Homo sapiens: one gene and its partner. The protein of the gene in region 1 interacts with the protein of each later gene in a pairwise test. Each region holds a gene or a part of one and is shown in the gene's direction. Other genes may lie near its edges.

Evidence for each region.
Region 2: the proteins of C1orf94 (region 1) and CHERP interact in binary tests that used the Homo sapiens proteins (3 or more experiments, as listed by UniProt).

Annotation. Positions count from the first base shown.
Region 1 is NC_000001.11:34,197,407-34,200,906, forward strand, and holds part of C1orf94 (uncharacterized protein C1orf94), read left to right. Parts: coding exon 1-507; intron 508-3,365; coding exon 3,366-3,500.
Region 2 is NC_000019.10:16,535,938-16,539,437, reverse strand, and holds part of CHERP (calcium homeostasis endoplasmic reticulum protein), read left to right. Parts: intron 1-3,500. UniProt on the Homo sapiens protein: Involved in calcium homeostasis, growth and proliferation.

The DNA of each region.
Region 1 (3,500 bases):
CAGGCAGTAATGAGCGCCCCAGAGCCTCCATCATTGTCGGAGACAAGCTTCTGAAGCAGAAGGTGGCCATGCCCGTTATCAGCAGCAGGCAGGACTGTGATTCTGCCACTTCTACTGTCACAGACATTCTGTGTGCCGCCGAGGTCAAGAGCAGCAAGGGGACAGAGGACAGGGGCCGCATCCTAGGTGACTCCAACTTGCAAGTCAGCAAGCTTCTGTCCCAGTTCCCACTGAAGTCCACTGAGACATCCAAGGTCCCTGACAACAAGAATGTGCTGGACAAGACAAGGGTCACCAAGGACTTCCTACAGGACAACCTGTTCAGTGGCCCTGGACCCAAGGAGCCCACAGGGCTGAGCCCATTTCTGCTGCTGCCTCCCCGACCTCCTCCTGCACGTCCTGACAAGCTCCCTGAGCTCCCTGCTCAGAAGAGGCAGCTCCCAGTGTTTGCCAAGATCTGTTCCAAGCCCAAGGCTGACCCTGCTGTGGAGAGGCACCACTTGATGGGTGAGTGGGGTTGGAACTGGGGTAGAGTGGGCCTGCAAGGAGGAGGTCCTTCCCAGGAAGCCAATCAGGGCTGCAGCATGTACATAAAGCATCTTCATGCAAAGCAAGACAAAGCAGCCTCTCTGGTGGGCACAGCCCCGAGGGACGGGCTGTTTCCAGCCCCCACAGGCTTATTTTGCTGGGTTCCCCTGTGCAGGGCACAGCTTTTGTAAGCAAACCCAGAGGCCCTGATCTCAACATACTTTGAGAAGAGAAATAGGCGCCATGTAGTAATTGGCTTAACTTTGGAATCAAACGGGTGTCCAGAGTACATTGAAGGAAGTGTTTACCCTAGCTGGGTTCAGGGTGAAACTACAGCATGGAGATGCCAAGATGTATAGAAGAGAAATTTGATTGGTAGCTGGGGTCATTTGGCATCTATCTCATGGAGGTACCTTGAGGACATGAGGCCTGGTCCTCCCTCTCTGGGGTATTGGGTAGATGCGTAAATTATCCAGGCATAGTGCAGACTGTTGACTCTGGGATCTGTTTCCTGGGACTTACTTTATTGAGGAGCTCACATTCTTCCCAGGAAAGCCAGCCACCTCCCAAGCTTCTCCTACTTTATGCCCAGGATTCTGTGTGTTGTTCTGATCTAACCAGTCAGACTATATGGTTCCAAGAAGGTAGGCTGATGGCCATGGCCATTGCCTAGAGTCAGCAGTCACTAAGAGAGTGATCATACTCATGTTAGCCAAAAGAACAATTTCCTCTGGGCTATGAGCATGGATGGATAACTGAGAGACACCCGTATTGGGAGGGTCCAAATTAATCTACCTGAGAAAATAAGAGCAAAGTCATCCTGAACATTCTGTGTCCTGGAGCATTGCAGGAAGGCCAAGGAATCAGAGCTGTGGATAGCAAGCTGAACTCTGGGTCCTGGACAGGCTTCTAGGAGCCAGAGGGCTTTAGGATGGGGAGCTGTAGGAGAGAGACGGTTGAGCTCTTCCCAGAGAGGAGACCTTCCTCCTACCTCTTCTCCAGAAGGGACCCATAGATATTTCCCTGTTGGATGGGGCTGCTGGACTGGAGGCAGTTCTGGTCCCACCCACCCCACCCACCATTGGTGCATGTCTGTGTGTACGAATGTGTGAGCAAAAGTGTGCCAAAAGGAGTTTTGAAGGTTTTAGTGTATTTGTTAGAGAAAATGCAAGAGTGGTGTGTCTAAGCATGTCTGTGTACACATTTGTGCATATGTCTGTCATGTATGTACTTGTGTATGTGTAACTAAGTCAAAGGAACAACAGATAGGAGTGTGTCTATGTCTGTGTGCCCAGACCTGGGACGAGGGAGCTTCGTAGATGTTTAAGGCATCTGTAAATATGAGTGGGAAGCTGCAGGTGTGTGTGTCTCTGGGGAAAGGGCTATTATCAGTGGGTACTGTTATTTCAGCTCACAGGCTAGGGGCTGAATTCGGCAACCGGAGGAACTCCTGGAAAAGACTCTAGGGATGTTTTGCTAAAAATGTTGTTTCCTTCTAAATTGGCTCAGGCTAGAGCAGCTCTTTCCTTTGCTGGAATAGTGCTAGGAAGACAGCCTTAGCCCCGAAGCTCAGCCCCCAAGCCGCTGGGCTAGGGGGCCAAAAGCTGGTGGGATCTGGTCTATTATTATCAACAGGTAACACTGAGGCACAGGTCCTTTCTGGCTGCATCCAGACAGATCCCGGTGCCTGCTATTGGGCAGCACAGTGCACAGCCATCTGGTGGGTGGCCAGGTTTCCCACCACTGCTGTGGAGGATCCTGTGATGGTCCCCAAAGTATGTCTGCATTGGGAGAATAAATGCTCAGTCTCTTTAGTGAGAAACCTGTGTCTGCCACCAATCTTGTCCCTGCTCCACACTCTAGCCATATCCAGTGACTCACAATGTCTCCTTGATGCTTCCAGGCCTTTGCCCACAGTTATCCCTGCCTGCCATGCCTTCCTCCCCAATACCCCTGGATGTAAGGCCTCGCTGCAACCCTACTTCCTTCTGGAAGGAACCTTCTCAGACAGAAGCAGCCTCAGCCACCCTGTTCTCCATTTCTTCCCTCTGCCACCTCATGGTGTTCATCTACCTTATCCTGGGGCTATTTCTGGGCATGTCTCTCTTTTTTTCTTGTTATGAGCTCCTGCAGGGCACAGTCTAGCTCTGACTCACAACTGTGTCCCCAGCACTCAGGTCAAGGCCTGGCACTGACAAGTGAGCTGAATCACCTGTGAGTAATAAAACAAAAGTAGAATCCAGAATGAGAGACCAAAGTGTGTGGCTCAGACCACATGTTCTGTAAGAATGTGTGACTCCTTCACTAAGCCATGTGCTCACTGAAGGCAGGAACTGTGTCCACAACATCCTTGTTTTCGCAGCCTGGCACTATGGATGGTTGGAGAGAAGGAATAGTGGAAGGAATGAGGAAAAGTAAGGAAGGAGAGGAAAGAAAAGAAAGGTAATTCGAATAAAGGAATGATGGAAGGAAGGATGAAGGGGTGGATGGATGGAAGGAAGGCAGGAAGATAAAGATGGATAGTCAGACAAATGGATGGACAGATGGATGGATGGATAAGTAGACGGATAGAAGGAAGAAAGGCAAAGATGATGGACAGATGGGTGGATGAATGAACAGATGGATGGATTGATGGATGCATGAGATCGGGGGGCAGGGGCCAGGGAGGGTTTCAGGGAGAGATTGGGATTGTATTTGGCTGAAAGAGAGTCCCCCAAAGTGGTCCAAGCCTCAGGTGTGTGCTGCAGAGGATTCATCATTTAGTCCACAAAAAGGTGCTTCCAGCATCCAGCACTTGGCCTTCCAGAGGCATTGACTCAGTTTCTTTCCTGCTACAGAATGGAGCCCTGGCACCAAGGAGCCAAAAAAGGGTCAAGGGAGCCTCTTTCTCAGCCAGTGGCCCCAGAGCCAGAAGGACGCCTGTGGTGAGGAGGGTTGCTGTGACGCAGTGGGCACCGCATCACTGACCCTGC
Region 2 (3,500 bases), on another chromosome or scaffold:
CGGTGGCTCACGCCTGTAATCCCAGCACTTTGGGAGGCCGAGGCGGGCGGATCACGAGGTCAGGAGATCGAGACCATCCTGGCTAACACGGTGAAACCCCGTCTCTACTAAAAATACAAAAAATTAGCCAGGCGTGGTAGCGGGCGCCTGTAGTCCCAGCTACTTGGGAGGCTGAGGCAGGAGAATGGCGTGAACCTGGGAGGCAGAGCTTGCAGTGAGCCGAGATCGCACCACTGCACTCCAGCCTGGGCGACAGAGCGAGACTCCGTCTCAAAAAAAAAAAAAAAAAAACCGTTTCTAAAGGCAGCGGGAAGCCACAAGAGTTTTAAACAAGGGAGAGGGTGGCTTGGGTTGTGTGGCCGGTGGTGTAGGACAAGCTACAGGGACCAGCCTGGGGAGCAGTGAGGCCTGCAGGGGAGCAAACAGGGCAGTTGTTTAGGTGAGAGATGGTGGGGTCTGAATTAAGTCAGTAGGTTGAGCCTGAGGGAGGGAGCATGGGGGGCAGGTGGGGTGAAGGGGTAGAATCCATGAACTTGGGCGCCAGTTGCATATTGACGACCTGATGGTGTAATGAGCAGGGGAGGAAGACACCTCAGACGGTGCTTTGGCTTGGGTGACTGAGCTAAGGGCTGCTTTCCCTTTCTGGGGCGGGGGGGTGGCCACTTGGAAGCTGGTGCCATTATGAGGAAGGAGAGGGTGCTTATGCTTATAGCCCAGGAAGATTGAAGCCAAGAAGTGCTTTCTTTTTTTTTTGGAGATGGAGTCTTGCTCTTGTTGCCCAGGCTGGAGTACAGTGGCAAGATCTTGGCTCACTGCAACCTCTGCCTCCCAGATTCAAGCGATTCTCCTGCCTCAGCCTCCCAAGTAGCTGGGACTACAGGCGTGCGCCACCACACCCAGCTAATTTTTGTATTTTTAGTAGAGATGTGGTTTCACCATGTTGGCCAGGATGGTCTTGATCTCTTGAACTCATGATCCGCCCACCTTGGCTTCCCAAAGTGCTGGGATTACAGGCGTGAGCCATCGTACCCAGCCAAGAAGTGCTTTCTGTGGGTGATGATATCTTGGCTAGATGTAAAGGGTGTGTTGGAGTTGGCCAGGTGAAAACAAGGGGAGAAAAGTGTTCCGGGCAGAGGAAGGAGCCCTTGGAGGGAATGGGGAACCCAGAGCTTAGGGTGGCTGAAGCCCAGAGTAGGAGGGGTTCTTGGAGTGGCCAGAGGTGGGGGTGCAGAATTGGGAGCCTGGCTTGGGGAGGAGTTGGAGGCCTGGCTTGGGGAGGAGTCGGGGACCTGGCTTGGAGAGGAGTGAGGAGTGTATCCTGGAAGCGTGGGAGAGACTCGTGGAAGGTTTAGGTCTGTGTTGTGAAGCTGGGTTAGCCACAGTACAGCCAGTTCTGCACCCCACGCCTTAAAGCCTGGGCCTCAACTGTTGTAGAATGGAGCTTCACGAACTCTGTGGTGAAGGACCATTTCTGGTGTTGTGTTTTAAGTTTCTAACCTGTTGTGTGTGGACCAAAACTTCTGCAAAGCACAGTAACAATGTGGACCGTGAACCATCACGCTGCTAGAAAGGTTTTGAAATGCTCCCTTTCTGGTTCCATAACCGTCTGTCACCGCTGGGTAGCCCAGGGACCACTCCATAAGTGGCAATACCATGACTGCCATGTCAAAAAGAGGTAGAGGGATGGGACCTGATGCAGGAAGACCGGTTCTGGGGTGACGCAGGTGACAGCAGATCCATGGTGGTGACAGCGGGGACATAGACTGATTGGAGTGATGTCTCGGAGGCCGCCTTGACACTATGTGGCTCGTCACTGGGAGGCACATGCTACTTCTGGCCTGGGTTTCTGGGCAGATGGTGGTGCCAACCATGGTGCGGGGAGCACAGGAGGGGACATAGGTGTAGGGGGTGAGAGGAAACACAGGCCCCTTGGAAACACAGTGGGCCGTGCAGTTGGTGGTTAGGGCCAAAGCTCAGGAATCCAGAATGGAGATGATGGATTTAGGAATCACACCATGCACAATCGCAGCCACAGGAATGAGTAGCTCATGTTGCCCGGCGGTTGCGTAGAGCGGAGGACAGGGCTCAGAACACAGGCCGCGCACCCCAGCATGTGAGGGTCCAACGGGAGAGGGGTTGGTAAAGGGGGAGAAAGGGACTGAGGGGGCGAACACATGGAGGCCAAGGGAGGCAAGCACCTGCGACAGGCCCGGGGGGCTGAGTTGAGTGAGGGTGTCCTCAGCTGCCTGGGGGAAGGAGGGGGGTGCGGGGAGTGGCAAGCAGGCACCAGGCTGAGATAAAGGGGAGGTGAAGATCTGGAGTGAGTCTTGTCTGAGAAATCGTTTAGAGAGGGATCATGGGGTAAAGGGAGAAGTTTCCAACCCAGAATATTCTGATGTGTTTATTTATTTCCTTTTTTATTTTTTGAGATGGAGTCTCACTCTGTCACCCACACTGGAGTGCAGTGGCGCCATCTCGGCTCACTGCAACCTCCACCTTGCAAGCTCAAGCAATTCTCCTGCCTCAGCCTCTCAGGTAGCTGGGATTACAGGTGCCCGCCACCACGCCCGACTAATTTTTTGCATTTTCAGTAGAGACAGGGCCATGTTGGCCAGGCTGGTCTCGAACTCCTGACCTCAGGTGATCACCCGCCTTGTCCTCCCAAAGTGCTGGGATTATAGGCGTGAGCCATCATGCCCAGCCCAATGTGTTTAGATGCTGCTGGGGAGGGACGGGTAAAGAGGGAGGAGTTGGAGAAATAAGAGATAGAAGAAATATCAATAAGCAGTGTCCCTCAGACAGTGGGAGGGGTGGGATTCAGTGCAGAAGTTGGGGGTCATCCTGTAGGGTGGCTTTGGGTGCACAAACTGGAGGGCACAGTCAGCCCCGAGACTTGACTTGAGCGCCCAGTGAGGGGCGACACCTTCCACCTGACACCCCACCTCCCTTATCTTTGGCTTTGTCCTGGTCCCCTTGGAGTGGGGCTCTGGAGGGCTCCAGGGGTACCTGGTCACATTTAGACCAGGCGGCCCCAAGACGGAGAGAGAGGCAGGTCATCTTGTCCAGGGCCTCCTTATGAGCCGGGTCCCTTCCTCAGAGACCTCACCACCTGCCCCATCTGGCCAGAGTTGGGACCTGCGCCCACCCTGACCCAGGCTTCTGCCGGCAGAATGGGTGTCTCACTGCTGCCTCAAACTGGATGCACCCCTGAATGCAGAGGGGTCTCTGTCCCCAAGGGCTGGAGAAGCAAGGAGAGTCAGTAGAAGGACAAGGCAGGTGTGGGGGAGGCCGCAGTGTGCGCTCGGGGGTGCGGCTTCGTGCCTTTCTGGCCAGATGTGCAGAGGCCCGGTGGCTGTGACATCTTAACAGTCAATGGGTAGCTTAAGTGGCAGAGGTCAGGGAGTGGCCGAGGAGGTCGGAGGATGAGAGGTACTGAGGCCTGGGTTCTGCATCAGGTGGGGCCTAGGTGGGTGAGGAGGTGGGCAGGCAAGCTTAGCTTG